Linked DNA regions of Homo sapiens. The protein of the gene in region 4 purifies or fractionates together with the protein of the main gene of each other region. This does not show direct contact. Each region holds a gene or a part of one and is shown on either strand. Other genes may lie near its edges.

Region 1 (3,770 bases), on a different chromosome or scaffold from region 4:
ACCCTCTGTTGTCTTGTAATCCAGTGTGCCGTCCAACTCCTTGGCTTGGGCCACCAGATGTGTCCCATCACCTCTCTTATTAGCTCCAGCCCCTGACCACATGGGTCCCTCAGATTCTGCGAACCTGAGAATGTGCTGGACTCTGCCTGGGAGAGTCGGCCCTGCCTCACGGCCTGGCAAACTCTTCAGTGAAACTGTTACCTCTCTCGGGAAGATGTCCGAAGGTTGCCTCAGGTGGAGTTGGTTCTCCCTCTCACATTCCTTTGGCATCTGATACTCCCTATCACAGTGGTCACTACAGGTCATGGTAACAGAATGTGCTTGTATATTTTGTTACTATATTAGGGCAGGCTTGGCTTGTTTATGGTTCTATCACCAGCAGGCCCTGCAGGTACCCAAAAGGTGCTTCTGAACCCAGTGAGTGGTGCTTTGGAAGCCCCTGGGACATCCTGTTGGGAAAATCCTACAGAGAAAGTGCTCAGGCTGTAGGGCAGGTGAGGAAGATCTAATACGCAAATCCAGGCAGGCTTTCTCAACTCAGGGCAGAGTAGGGGCCAGCCAGGAGGCCAGGGCAGAGGCTGAGAGCACAGAGGCTGGCTGACATCTTTTTGAGGCACTGAGCCCCCAAGAGTGCAGCCTCCGAAGTGTGGCCCTGACAGCTTCCACTGGAGCCCCAGCAAAGCCTCCTCACTGATCCAAAGGACTAGATTAGTGAAAATCATACGGGGAGAGGGGACAGGGAAGACCCACGAGACAGTGCCCGTGCTGCCCTGAAGCTAGGGAGAAGAGAACTCCATGGCCATGATCTTGTCTAGCTGAGTCACCTTAGACAAGTTCCTTAATGCCCCTCCTGAAGGGTCCTGGCCTGGGGCAAGACCTGTGAGCGACCTAAAGGACTTCAGAAGAGCCTCAGCAAAAACAAATGGCTCCTCAACCTGTCCTGCGTGGAGCAGTGCAGGGGACGGATCCCCCTCATCTGGGCTTTGTCTGAGCCCTTCTCAGAGGATGCCACCCACAGAATAGCGACAGCAAGAGCTCCCAGTCCCACCCCCATCCCAGGCTGAGTCACTCTAAGAAAAGGACAGTGTGGGAAAGGGCAGGGTGGGCCGGAAATGCTTTCTGCATCCCCAAATAACCTCTGGCAGCCTCAGAAGGTCATCAAGCCGGTGCTGGAGCTGGAGCAGCTGCTGGGGAGAGGCTGCTTTGGGTCTTGGCATGGTCTGGTCGGAGGCCCACCCTTCCTGCTTCAAGCCTTCCTTTTCCGAGGCCCCTGCTCGGGCCTGCCCTGGGTGAGGACCACAGCTCAGCAGCCCCAGATCCCTAACTTCCTACTGACTCCTTAAAGACTTGACCCAGCTCCTCCTTCTTCCATGAAAAAACTACTGCAGCTAAGACACCCAGTCACCCTCTCCCATCCTTACCCTGTGGCCAGGTAAGCTGGATAGCTAAGCTAAGCATCCTCACGGGTTCCCCATTGGGCCAAGGGATGATGGGCTCTCTCTGGCCCAGGCATCCCTCCCACATTCCTGCTGAGATGTGCACTAGCCGTTCTCAGGGGCCTCTTCACTCCCCGCCACCAGCTCCCTGGCTTGGCCTGAAGGGACAAGGATGAGGCTCTGACCTAAGGATCCTGTCACCCACTGTGGGCAGAGCACTCTCAGAGGTTGAGACACCCCTGCAGTGCTGGACAGACATGGCCAGACGCAGTTAGGGTTCTCTGCTATCTAGTCACACCTGGCTGCACAGGGTCAGGGTCAGGTCTGTGCGACCTCAAGGTATCAGCTGCCCTCTCTGAAGTGTGGGCTGGTTTGCCTCCCTGAAGGGCAAGGTGAGAGACGCGCTTCAGTGGGGTCTACCTTCTCTGCTGGCCCCACCCCAGAAAGGCCCAAATCTCACGACCAGGTGTGAGGCTGCAGGCCTGGCTTATCCCAGCCAGGAGCGCCTTCTGCTTGTGCCGACCTCTGAGAATACTACAGCCAGTGCCAGACGTCAGCTCCTCTTAAAACACCACTGCTTCCCAAACCTCAGGGAGTCAGTGTGTGGAGAGGGAGGGTCCCTAGCCTCCAAATGAAAAATGTAGAAAAATCCCCAGCCCTCAGCTACACTGAGCCGCAATGACACAGAGGAGCTAGGCAAAGAGGTAACAGTCACCCCAAAGAGAAGAGGGCTGAAGGGCCAGAGAACTGGATTAGTGACCAAAAAGTGGGACAGGAAAGCCCCACAAGGCAGCATCAGGCTCCGATCACATACACATGTCCCCTGACACTGGCACTCAAGGAACCCAGGGGGTTGTTGGAGGCTTCTGCCAATAGAGCCTTGGGCCAACACTGCGAGCAGCAGGAGGGTTTGTGACTTGCTCTGGATTGCATGACCTCCGAGAGACAACCTGGTTCCTGGCTCCAAGGGCAACACTCTTAGCCAGCCTCACACAATGTCACTGATCTGGCATTTTGCATAGTTACATATCCCACAAATCTGTCTCCCATAAAATCTACGAATCCATCTCCCAGCATTACACATTGATCTTGTCTAGCTCAGTCACCTTAGACAAGTTCCTTAATGTCCCTGACACTATTTCCTTGTCTGAAAAATGGGGATGATAGTAAGCACCTGCCTCTTGGTTTTGTTGTACAGATGACATATGAGAACCCAGGCCTGGTGTGGTACCTCGCACACAGTAAAGGCTGAGTACAGGCAGCTGTGTCTCCTGCTGTCATTCCTGAGGGGCTCCCTGGCCCTCTGCCCCCCGGGGGGATTCTCATTAGGTCACTTCTTAAAGCCTCCTGAGACAAGGCATTCAGTGCCCATCCTCCCTGCTCACTATGCTTGGCACCCACTTCCCCCAGTGTGCTCACCACCATGTGGGGAAACAGTCAATTCCATGGTGCTGTGTCTGTCTTCCCAGGTGTGGCCCCTCTGCCGCCCCAACCAGCTCACCTCGGCTGCCCTCCGGCGGGTGCCCTCCCCACTCTCGGCCTCCTCATGCTCTTTGGCGCCCTGGGTGAGGTTGGTGTAGCTGACGAGCTTTCCCAGAAGAGACGATACCTTTGGGCGGATGTCCAGCTCTTCCTGCAAACAGAGCCACAGGGCAAGATGGCATTGGGCCAGGTGGGTGCCAGCTGTGTGGAGCCAGCTGCCTGGTCCCTGGCCCTGTTCCAAGCCCTGAGACAGGCCTGGGCCTGATCCCAGTTCCTACCTGGGGAAGTCCAAGCCATCCAACTGGACAGGTGTGCACACCACACCCCAGCACGTGGCACTCAAAGGCCCAGCCCCGCGGCTGCTTCTCTCTACCCCGCCTTGGCTACAATCACTGCCAGCCCATTTGTGAAAACCACCTGCCTCAGGGGAGAGAGGGCAGGGAAGAACACGGCTGGCAGGGGGGCAATGGCATACTTCATCCTGCCTGCTCTGCCCAGCCACCTCCTGGCTATGGCTGCACCTCTAGGACTCACGCCTACCCTCCCCACAAAAAAGCCACTCTAGTCACCTCAGGGAACCAAAGAGGGCAAAAGAGTGATGTCTGGGACAAGTGAAGTCTCCCTTGTCTGCCCAAACCCTGATCTCCCTGGATGGTCTTCCCCTGACCCCAGTCCTGCAAGTACCCACATCAATCGCGGAGATGGGATCCTGATCCTCCAGCCCATCCTCAGGCGGGGCTGGGCCAAGGCCTTCACCGCAGAACCTTGCTGCTTTCCCAGGTCAGGAGGCCTCCCAGAGCTCAGGTCCCCCAGCCCCACCGGGGTCTAGGCGATGATCCCTGCTCCTGCAGC
Region 2 (3,770 bases), on a different chromosome or scaffold from region 4:
CCAAGCAGTGAACTCTTTGGCTTCTGAGTGCGGAGGATGACACAAAATATAGAAAAACAAACCCCAACAAGTAGGCCTATTTCAGTACTTAGCAGTGCAGAGGACAGCATAGTAACAAACCAGATAACTGTATCCATTCTACTAATACTCCACATTTTGGGAAGATCCCTAAATTTACGAAGGGCTCCCCGTAGATTTACAATTGTGATCACACCAAGGACACTTTTTTGAAGGGAATAGAACAAAGGAGCTATTACTAGGAGGACCAACAAAAGAACCAGGGCTGTTACCACACCAGAAAGCTGAGTATGGCAGCCTGTTGATTCTTTAACCAATGTCTTTGCAAGAGCTGCACTAGTAGTAAAACAGTGGAAGAAGGAAGGGATGATATTACAAAAGCCAATGGCATACATTTCCTGGTTTGCTTTGACTGTGTAACCATGTTTCTTGGCAAACATCTCAGAAAGTGATACAGTGATAGCAAAACCAATGATGGAAATAGCTATTGCATCTACAGCCACACTAGGAATTAGGTTCCATTCTGGTACTTTGGGTGGCATAAACCCAGTGGGAATATGTCCAGCAATACTAGAATTATAATTTTCATGTAGTTTTCCAAAATGAGAGGCTAATGTGGCTGCTACAACAACAACAAGTTCAATAGGAATCGGTGCCTTAAGCTTGGATTTGAAGTGTTCATTGAGTTCTTTGGTTGGCAAAAGAACCAAAAGGCACAAAAGGCTGGTGATAAGATCACAGAGATTGGTCTTATGGATGTTTCTGAAGACATGTATCCAGGTAGTGATGAGTGAGCCCACACCATTAGTCCGAGGAAGGTTGAGCCCAAGAAGATACTTGGCCTGAGATGTAAGAATAGTGAAGGAGGCACCAGTGACAAATCCACTCAGCAAGGCATCTGAGAGGTAGACAGAAACAAAACCCACTTGAAAGAAGCCCATCGCTACCTGGAAGGAAGGATATAGAAGTGTTAAATATAAATGGAAAAGAACTTCTAAATTTTATATTATCCTGACATTTCTTGCATGGAGACATATCATCAGAGCATCACAGAATGTCAGAGCTAGAATAAACACAATCATATATCAATCTTCTCATTTTACAAAGATGAAAATTATGTTTAAAGGGCTAAGCAACTTGCCCAAGGTCACACTGTTACTTATTAACCCAGGTGAGACAGGAACTTTGGATTTCTTTCTTTTCATACGTTTCTTAAACTTGAATAAGGTTCATACCTCTTTTTTTTTTCATTCTTCCCATCACAAAGAACAGACCTCTTTTAAAAGAAAAACATTCTCAAGGATCCACAAGAAAACTTCAAATTGGAAAAAATTATTCTAGTTAAGAAACCAAGTATTTTCCTTAAATTACAAATCACTACTGTAAAAGTGAAGTCTTACGGCTTCTCAGCCTCTTGGCTAAGAGCAAGTGTACAAGTGAAGTTTTAATTGGTAAAACAAAAAATTAGATTTACATCAAAGTAGAATCACACTTTAAAAATTATTGTAGATTATCTTTAACCTCATACTAAGAAACCATTCTCATGCAGTATATATGTACTTATGCCACACTGTCTCCCATATTAATAAAAATTCTGCATTTTTACTTCTTTATATTTTCCTCTGTCTAATAAGTTTTCAGAATTGTTATGCCTTCTTCCTTCTTGGTGGGACATACTAACAAAAAGGCAAAAGTTGGTTGGGCGTGATGGCTCATGCCTGTAATCCCAGCATTTGGGGAGGCAATATTGGGAGGATCACTTGAGCCCAGGAGTTTGGTCATAGAGAGACCCTGTCTCTTTATAAATAAATGAATAAATAATAAATAAGTAAGTAGACTTATTATTTACCATTATATATGAGTAGACAGCTCATCTTCACACCATCTTCACTCTCCCTCCCCACTCATCTGAGCACCAACTAAAGTGAGCTACTCTTCCCCTTCCCTTGTTGGTTTGAAATGCCTGCATTAGAGAAGGTTTAATCCTGGCACTGACTCCTGGATGCCAAAAGCCAGGGGCATGATGATAATGACAGATTAGTGGATTCTATGGGAGACTCAAGAATTTGATTTCTTATCCTTTCTCCTGGCTGATAATATGAAACTGTGGTCCCCAACTTTTTCCCTCCCTCCCCAACAATCCAAGACAACCACTACCTTTAGTAAGAGTTGCTCAATAGATCAGCAATTTTAATGGAAGGTAAGAGACATTTAGAATTTGAGGCTGGGTGTGGTGGCTCATGGCTATAATCCCAGCACTTTGGGAGGCCAAGACGGGAGGATTGCTTGAGCTCAGGAGTTTGAAACCAGCCTGGGCAACGTGGCAAAACCCTGTCTCTACAAAAAATAAAAATAAAAAATAAAATAAAATAAAATAAAATAAAATTAGCCAGGTGTGGTAGCATGTGCCTGTAGTCCTAGCTACTCAGGAGGTTGAGGTAGGAGGACTGCTTGAGCCAGGGAGGCGGACGTTGCAGTGAACTAAGATAGTGCCACTGCACTCCAGCGTGACAGAGTGAGACCCTGTCTCCAGAAAAAAAAAAAAAGTGAGAAACTCCTGCACTCTCAACTCCATTCTGTTACCCACTTGCCTAACTGCTAATGCTGACTCTGCCAATAACCAGCCACAAATAATCTCAAGCAAAGCCAAGATTTTCTGACATGTAAAATTAAGGAGTTGTACTGGGTGGTGGAGGTCCAGTGAACCAGCCTTATATTACCTGTGGAGTCAGGTTAGGGTTTGAATTTTGCCTCTACCCTTCATATATCCTGAACTCTCAATAAATGATACCTTTAATTATTGTGATTCCTCAGATCCCTTAGAGATATGAGATTTCATGTACTAGATTACTTTTCTAGAAATAACCAATTGTTTCATTGCTGCTTACCTGATAAACTCCAGCTATAAAGGTTACAGTGCTGCCAACCATAATTGCATAGCAACTTTTGTCACATATCCTGTCTGATGTATGATTTAATAATGTGCTCCCATTTGAAACCATTCCTAAGGAAGGAGCACTATGGGCATTGTCATAGCCAGCTTTCTGTAGTTCTCGGTCAACTGTCTCACCAATCATAAGGCACAGTACTCCAAAAATGCCCACAGAGATGTGACGGGAGGTACCCAAGAGAAAATAAATGATGCTGGCAAAAAAAGATGTGTACAGACCATAGACAGGTTCTTGGCCAGCCAGCAGGGAATAAGCAATGGACTGGGGCACCAATAATATGCCCACAATCAAGCCTGACATCACATCCCCTAAAATGTTTTTCTTTAGGTCGTATTTTGGGAGCCACTGCAAAACAGGAAGGAAACCTAAAATCATATTTTTGGCTTTGGCTGGACTGCACTGGCAATTCTTCTGCAGCTTTTTAATAACAAACTCCTTGAAGTTTGTATCTGATTTCTCTTGACGCTCAATAAGGATCCTATGATAAGGTCTGCATTGATCATTGGTCTCAAATTGCTTGAAGTCAGTACTTGATTCCCTTTGAAGTTCCAGATGGATCCCAGATGGATAACTGTCATTTCCTTCAGCTGAGTCTCTGGGTGAAACGTTATGTTGCTCTTTACTTTCTGAAGACATTTCTGGAGATAGATGGTTCAGCTTCCTACACCAGAGAAAATACCAGTGTTCATCAATAAAGTAATTCTCAGTGCTCACATATACTAACAATTCTATTTGTCATTTCATGAGAGTTAAAAGGAATTCAGTTTTGGAATAGGTATCTTATGTCCCTTTTCCTTAATT
Region 3 (3,770 bases), on a different chromosome or scaffold from region 4:
ACTCCCACATGCTTAGCGTTCCAATAATGGAACACTAGGCATAAATACATTAACCCATTTTTAACCCCCAAATTAAGACACTAATTTAACAAAACTGATAAACATTTAAGTACGATTCCAGATAGAGACCATGTGGGTTTTACTTCTAATCTGAGAACAGAGGAAGTGAGCATAAAGTAATCCACTTTTAACTTGTAATCAGCACAATGCCTTGTCTAATGGTAGCACAGCCATCAATAGTATAGGAATCCATTTCCAGCTGTAAAAACCTCAGAGACCACTAGAGTTCCACTGTATAAAGTTGGATTTACAATCAAAATGGATTATCTCCCAATTCTTTCCTTGGAAGAATTTCTGTTATCCTAAGGTATGATCAATCATTATACCAGCATTCTATGAACAAGCACACTGGGCTGGACACAGTGGCATACACCTGTAGACCTGTAGTCCCAGCTACTTATAAAGCTGAGGCAAGAGGATTACTTGAGTCCAGGAGTTCGAGATCAGTCTAGGTAACATAGCAAGACCCCTTCTCTTTAAAAAAAAAAAAAAAAAAAGCACACTGATTTATTATTAGCAAATACTTTAGAAAATGTGAAATGATTTGGTTTTTCATTAAAGGTTGCCATGGAAAAATAAACACTGGGGATTACACATGGGGGGATGGTGTAAGGGAAACATGGGATGTAAAATTACCTATTGGGTACTATGCTCACTACCTGGGTGATGGAATCATTCACACACCAAACCTCAGCAACATGCAATTTACCTATGTAACAAACCTGCACATGTACTCCCTGAACCTAAAATAAAAGTTGAAAAAATAAAGAGTTGCCTTGGGTAAAAAATGGAACAAAAGGAGTACACCAAAAACATAAGAATATCCTCTATAACAGATGTGGCAAAGCCTCACATAAAGTCAAGTCTCACAAAGGAAGAACAAAGGCAGCAAATGGTCTAGAGCACTTGTTCTGGGATACCTCTTGGCCCCAAATCTCACAGAGATTGTGATTTGAAGAACGAAGCTCCAAAAGACCAAATATTCAGTGTGAAACTAATTTTTAAGAAGAGGCTACCAGTTCATCAGAATTTTGGAACATACTTGCCTTAGATATTTCAGTAAGGCTATCATAATTCATTTACACTCTACAGAATAAATTGTTTCTTTTCATAATAAATATCACATTTGCATAATAATTTAAGGACTTACCTCCCATAATCGAAGAATATCTAGAAAACTAAATTCCCTTTTGAATCTGATTAAAAGCCACCTGAAGCAAAAATAAAGGTATCCAGAGTCCTGAGATTCTATGCAGAAGAAAAAAACACACATATGACTTACTCTTATGCTAATTATGTCAGAATACAGTTACTTTTCTCTAACTTTCCTATGCATCTTAGGCAATTCAAGGCCCTATACATTTGTCTTCTACGTTAAGGAATCATTTCAAACTTGAAGGCTGACTTCTTTTTAAAAACTAACAAATAATACATTTTACGAATCAAGTTTAAGGCAGAATTATACAAAGAGAGTTTGGTTCCACATTTTTATGGAACCGAAGAAAGTGCAATAGAGTATATATGTCTTTAAGTTCTTTTTTATTGAGACAGTGTCTTGCTATGTCACCCAGGTCGGAGTGCAGTGGAGTGATCCCAGTTCACTGTAGCCTCAACCTCCTCGGCTCAAGTAATCCTCCCACCTCAGCCTCTTGAGTGGCTGGGACTACAGGCATGCATCACCACAGCCAGCATTTTTTTTTCCTTGTAGAGATGGGGTCTCACTGTGCTAGCCAGGCTAGTCTCAAACTCCTGGGTGCAAGTAATCCTCCCTCCTTGGCTTCCAAAGTGCTGGGATTATAGGCATGAGCCACTGCACCTGGCTTCTTTAAAGAGTTCTTTACATTTTTTTCTATGCATTACTCTACAATTTGCTGGGTATAGTTCTGATTCACTAAACTTACCTAAGTAACTGCAAAATCCACTGTCTAACAATCGAAGTAAGGTACTCAGCTGAATTAGCTGGGTCTTCATGCCTTGCATTTGTTCTTCAAAATTCTGATGCTTTAAAAGGAAATAATTGTTACAAGTAATATTTAATAAATATTTTATAGTACATAATGACTGATAACTAAAACATGATGTCTAAGGACAAATGCTGAACTTATACCACACTGGTAATCTTAAAAAATGCGTAACTAACCAAAAATCTAACGTAACACTAAAAGGGAGGGTAAAGAGAAAGAATCCTTGCTCTCAAAACTAAGGATTATTTTTTCCTCTATTCATTTGACTTAGATAAAGAAGAATGCAGACATAGCAACTGCAGACTGACTATTTATTTCTTACACAGCATAAAAGACTTGGTGAAAGAAACACACATTTGGGAAATAAATATTTATCAAATTCTTTCCATTGTTAAATATTCCTTCAAATTATACATAATAAAATTAATTTTAGTTTTAGTATGTATTTCATTTTAAAGAATTACTTTACATTGGAGAATCTGTAAAGCCAAAACCATTTTCAGGACAATACTAAAACATTATCTGGATTTCATACTTAAATTCTTTCACAAGTGCAAAGGCTGTATGATGTGTGATACTCCAAAAGACTGAACACAGAAGCAAATATGAAAATTCAGCTGTCTTCTATTAAACCAGACATTTTTAAAAATGAAAAATTTAAAACAATCTCTTGTGTCGGTAAATTTTTCATTAGGAAAGGTTACTTTTCATTAAAAAAAAGTGATCTATGTTAAGGTAGAATGTGTTGTTATTTAATGAATTAATAAATAAATGAATACAAGTTTCTCAGTATTAATTTTTCACATAAACATCAACAGATATAACCCACATAAACAAAAACTCTTTCAGGTCTTCAATAATATTGGAGAGTGTGAAGGGGCCCTGAGGTCACAAAGTTTGGGAACTGCTGGGGTTCATATGCTTTAAAGAAACTTCATAGTTGAGTAGACTCCCTACCAACACCTGAGTCAAGGGGCCAGAAGGCACCAAAACTGATGCTCTGAAAGGCTTCTTAAATGATTTGGATCCCTTTAACTCATATGTCCCGATCCCTCTGTGGTAACCTACCGCCCTAACCCTAGTGAAAGCCTTAGAAAAACATTTCCTCCTTCACACTTACTTTTTCACTTTTACAGTACAATAGTGCTTTATTAGAACTATCATATTAGAAACAATTCATTCTTAAAAAAAATTTAAGTCTATTAATTCTCAATAAGCTGTTTCTCTTTAATGAATTTTAAAAACCAGTTTATTAATAGACTAACTCAAGGCTTTAGGATATAGTTCCTCCACATTTACCAGAGAGATCTATAGAGAAGGGGCAGAATCAACTCTGATTAACAGGATCATTTTTGCTGTGACACAGTCAAAGACTAGAGCTGATCTGGGAATACCAACATGGCATAGACATTTGCTACCCACTCTGCTGTAAAAAAGAAACATGTCCATAATGACAGACACCATATTCGAAAAAGTGGTTACTCCTGGAGAAGGGAGAGTGGGATCAACAATGGATATACAAAGGGCTTCAAATGTGTCTGTAAATAAATGTGTCTGTATGGGGCAGGGGAGGGGGAGATGGAGAGGAGAAAGGAATTAAAACTATATGGCAAAATGGATGATGGGTATAACAAAGTTCATCAGATCACTTGTACTTTGTATTTCCATGATAATAGACAAAGTCTATGCCTAGACCTACATTAGATGCAAGTAAACATCAACAAAAGTAAATTTACAGACGTTAGG
Region 4 (4,041 bases):
TCATAATGTTTTCATGGTCATGTAATCTTACATAAATATGTATGGAGTGGGGTCGTTCATGATTTTTTTTTAAATGAGGTATATTGTATGTACTTCCCTGCATCCTGTTTTTATCACTTAAAGATGTATCACTTAGAGATAGATTAAATACAGACTAACACCCTTAATTTCTTTTACCAAGTTAGTTCCTTATTTTGTTATTGCCTGTTGTGGCTTGGGTTTTGACCAGTAGACACAGTGCTGCCATTAATATCATTCTGTATATCCTCAGGGAGATTTTAGTCCTAAGCGGAGTAGGTTCCCAGGACAAGGAATTGTTCTCAGCAGTATCTTTTCTCCTGCTTATCTCATTTATTATTACAAATTCAACCATTTTATTGTTCTATCCATCGCTTTTAAATTGGGGTAGAAGTTACAGTGAAAAACACAAATCTTAAGTGTGCAGTTCATTATAAGTTTTGACCAATGTATACATTCATTTTGACAAATGTATACACTCATGTTATACTCCAAACAATTTCTATACTCCAAACAAAATATTGTTTGTTGTACTCCAAACAATATTTCTGTCACCCTAAAAAGTTCTTTAGTGTCTCTTTTCAGGCAGTCTCTACTCTCTCATAGGCAACCACTGTTCCTGTTTCTTTCACCATGGGTTAGTTTTGCATGTCCTTGAACTTCATGTAGATGGAGTCACACGGTTTGAAAGTTTTTGTGTCTGACTTATTTTGCCCAGTGTAATGTTGTTGAAATTCATCCATATTTTTATATTGTATCTGTTGTTTGTTCCTTTTTTCAGGACACTATTTCATTTTATAAAAATACCAGAATTTTTTTGTTTTTTTGTTCTCTTGTTGATGGACAGTTAGGTTGTTTCCAGTTTGGGGGTATTATGAACAAAGCTGCTGTGAGCATTATTGTTTTGGGGAGGCAGTTTTCATTTCTCTTGAGTGAATACCTAGGCACGGAGCTGCTGGATGATGCGGTGCTAAAGAGTTTTCCAAAGTGGTTGGGGAAGTGAGTATTTTTAATTTAAAATGGATAGTCAGTTCCTTCATTAAAGGGCTTAAACTCACCAGTGACTGGTGAATTTCTACCAGTGGCTCTCCACGTCTCCACCAGCAAAGAGAGTTTCTCTCTTTTTAAAGTTGTGCCAGTCTGATGAAGCCAGAGTGAGAGCTTGCTGTCACTCTAATTTGTAGTTCCCTGAGTGCTTAAGATGGCATCATCATTTTTTAAAAAGCTCTCCAGAAAATTCAAATGTACAGGCAGGATTAAGAATGCTGCTATTGAAAGGTGACAGGGGGAAGACAAAGATCTGACCTCTTCAGGCAGTAGCACCAAGAATGCAGGGTGGATGTTCATTATTTAGGATCAGGGAGACTTCTACAAATTTGTTTGTGGATAGGCTAAAGTGACTGATGAGAAGTGAGAATAAGTTTTTAGAAATATTGGGCAGAGATGGGATTAAGAATGGAGGTGAAGGTATTAGATTCTGCAAGGATCAGGAATAGGGGAGAAGGAACGCACAGTGCACAGTTGCCTGGAATCATTTTGCACAGTGCCTGAGGTTTCTTTGTATCCAGTGGGAAAATTAATTGGTATTCGTGATCATTTGTATAATGAGTAAACTTTCAAATAGGGTTGTTTAAAGGGACTGAATTTCACCCATCTGGAAAATTTTGCCATCCAGACTGGCTCACTCCAGAGGTGCCAGGTAGCTGAAGTTTCTGAAGAGCTGGACATCTATGTTATATGGTGTGTGCAGCCCACATAGGCCTGGTTTCCCACTTAACTAAACGCTTTGTATCAAGAATGGACTTGTTTGGGAAGGGAATATTTTGTAAGATGATGCCTAGTATTGTCTGAGAGAGATAGAGCTTTCAGGTTAAGATCTTGAGGCTTGCACCAAGTGCAAAAAATGAAAATCAGAGTGCATTGTGTTGGGGAAAAAAAAGTGAGTTTGGTTCCTTTTGGGGAAGAGTGGGACTCATGTACACGAGCAGAATGGAGGCTGATACTTCATCTCATTTAGCTGCTTGTTTGTTAGTACTAAACAGGATTAGTATGAAAACAGGAAGTTCTCAGCTGGAGACTTTAAAGGAGAAAGGAGGAATATTAAAATTCCCTTTGTTTTGTGAAAGCCACTGAAATTTAGGTTTTGGTTGTTACCATGCTATACCCTAGCCCATCCTGACTGATAGAGGCATTGCCTGACACAGAACCCTGCCATCATCTCATTCTACAGGATTGGTGCTCCATGGTAGAGCCAGGGTATTTTTTCTTAATAATTAAAGTATTTTTTTTTACCTTTCCTCCGTTAAGGTGGACTTAGGTGAAGGCAAGATTTGCTTCTGTTGTGAAGAATTTCAACCAGCCAAGTGCACAGACAAAGAAAATGCCTTGAAACTCTTTCCGGTTCAGCCCTGTAGTGCTGTTCACCTTCTACTTAAGGTACCTCAAACAGATTCCCACCCGCACGGTAAATACACCACGGAGCCCCCAAAGAAGGCAAACTTACTTGAAATATTCCTGTTCTATTACCTCCCTCAAACAATTAAGCTGCTGAAAGCGCATGTGAGTGACCCCAGAGACAGAATTGAATGCAGAAAGAACCACAGATTATTGTGTGTGTTAAATTATGTATGGACAGCTTTCTTTGTGTTGAAGAACTGTAAGATAGTAAAAAATGGAAAGGAGCCTGACTATATATATGTATATGTATACACATACACACATATTTCCACATATAAACATATGCATACGTACATATGTATACCTACACACACATATACGGTGTAGCTTTTAGCAAAACCTTTAAGTCGCACACTCGTGTGTCATTGTTCTGATGCTCATTTGTTTGCTTACATGGGTCATATGGGCCACTGAGTACTACCAGTCTGCAACACGTAGACTAAGGAGAGAGATTGGCCAGAAAATATGGGGGAATTGAAGCACCTTAGCTCTTGTTTAATAAGCAACAACTATAATAAGCCAAAGGTATTAAACAAACAGATGATCCCAGTTGAAGAGAAATACAAAATTAGCCTTCATCAGGGAATTGGATAAAAATTGTGCCCTGACTTAAGGAACATTAGCTCAGTGAGTGACAAAATCAACTGGTGAACCCTGAGGTATGGCTTTTTGAGAGTCCACTTCTGCCGGTTTTCTTTAGATATTTGTTTTGGGTTTCATTTTGGTGGGGAGGAAGAATCTCCAAGGAAAGAGAGAACTGTTCCAAGCTACCAGCTCTGGGTTGTGTGGGATGTGGAAATGGCCTGCTTTCCATGGCTTCTGCATTTTTGGTAGCTGAGTCACCCCCAAACTTTCTGAGCCAGGACTTAGCTTGGGGAAAGCCCCACTCAAGGAGCCAGGACTGTACCAACAGAAGCGTTTGGAATGGCCTTTGCTATTTTGAGATGTGTGTTTAGTGGAGAGAAGTCCTATTTACACTCTGGCTGGGCCAGCTCCTTCAGTGTCCTCGTCGTGTGCATGGGGCAGCACAGCCAATTGCTCTTGAAATAGAATTAGTGGCCACAAATTAAGCAGTGTGCTGTGCTGGTGGGAGGCTGTGGGAGGGAGGAGGCTGGGAATTGCTATCCCTGGGGAAATCAGCCTCAGAAGAGAAGCTCACTGCTCTCCTGGAAGGAATGTTTCTCGACAGTATTCTGATGCTTGCAAAAAGAAATACTATCATACCACGTTGTTCTGTGACAGAAAGCTTCTAAGATAAGTTTTTGGAATTAAGAAGTACACATTATTGCATGAGGGTCATAATAATAGCCAGCATTTATTTGGGCACTTTCCACGAGCCAAACACCATCTAAGTCCTTTACATGCATCCTCTCCTGAGAATTGTCTTATGGAGGCAGCGTTATTATTATTTTAAAGATTTTCTACATTGTATTCTGGTGATGTTTGTTGAAGTACTTAGTGGTGCCATTGTTTCCTTGCCCCAGAAAGTCCTCTTTGCCCTGTGTGCCTTGAATGCCCTGACCACCACCGTCTGCTTGGTGGCCGCTGCCCTCCGCTACCTCCAGA

What was found.
Region 1: the proteins of ENTREP1 (region 4) and SLC12A4 purify together in Homo sapiens (affinity purification with mass spectrometry; 3 studies listed by BioGRID and IntAct, with this or other methods). This does not show direct contact.
Region 2: the proteins of ENTREP1 (region 4) and SLC26A2 purify together in Homo sapiens (affinity purification with mass spectrometry; 3 studies listed by BioGRID and IntAct, with this or other methods). This does not show direct contact.
Region 3: the proteins of ENTREP1 (region 4) and TBC1D15 purify together in Homo sapiens (affinity purification with mass spectrometry; 3 studies listed by BioGRID and IntAct, with this or other methods). This does not show direct contact.

Annotation. Positions count from the first base shown.
Region 1 is NC_000016.10:67,958,638-67,962,407, forward strand, and holds part of SLC12A4 (solute carrier family 12 member 4), read right to left. Parts: intron 3,070-3,770; coding exon 2,938-3,069; intron 1-2,937. UniProt on the Homo sapiens protein: Mediates electroneutral potassium-chloride cotransport when activated by cell swelling. May contribute to cell volume homeostasis in single cells. May be involved in the regulation of basolateral Cl(-) exit in NaCl absorbing epithelia.
Region 2 is NC_000005.10:149,977,488-149,981,257, reverse strand, and holds part of SLC26A2 (sulfate transporter), read right to left. Parts: intron 3,631-3,770; 5' UTR 3,606-3,630; coding exon 2,907-3,605; intron 966-2,906; coding exon 1-965. UniProt on the Homo sapiens protein: Sulfate transporter which mediates sulfate uptake into chondrocytes in order to maintain adequate sulfation of proteoglycans which is needed for cartilage development.
Region 3 is NC_000012.12:71,915,989-71,919,758, reverse strand, and holds part of TBC1D15 (TBC1 domain family member 15), read right to left. Parts: intron 2,062-3,770; coding exon 1,962-2,061; intron 1,309-1,961; coding exon 1,211-1,308; intron 1-1,210. UniProt on the Homo sapiens protein: Acts as a GTPase activating protein for RAB7A. Does not act on RAB4, RAB5 or RAB6.
Region 4 is NC_000009.12:69,373,411-69,377,451, forward strand, and holds part of ENTREP1 (endosomal transmembrane epsin interactor 1), read left to right. Parts: intron 1-2,325; coding exon 2,326-2,454; intron 2,455-3,959; coding exon 3,960-4,041. UniProt on the Homo sapiens protein: Functions as an activator of the E3 ubiquitin protein ligase ITCH in the ubiquitination of the CXCL12-activated CXCR4 receptor. Thereby, triggers CXCR4 endocytosis and desensitization, negatively regulating the CXCL12/CXCR4 signaling pathway.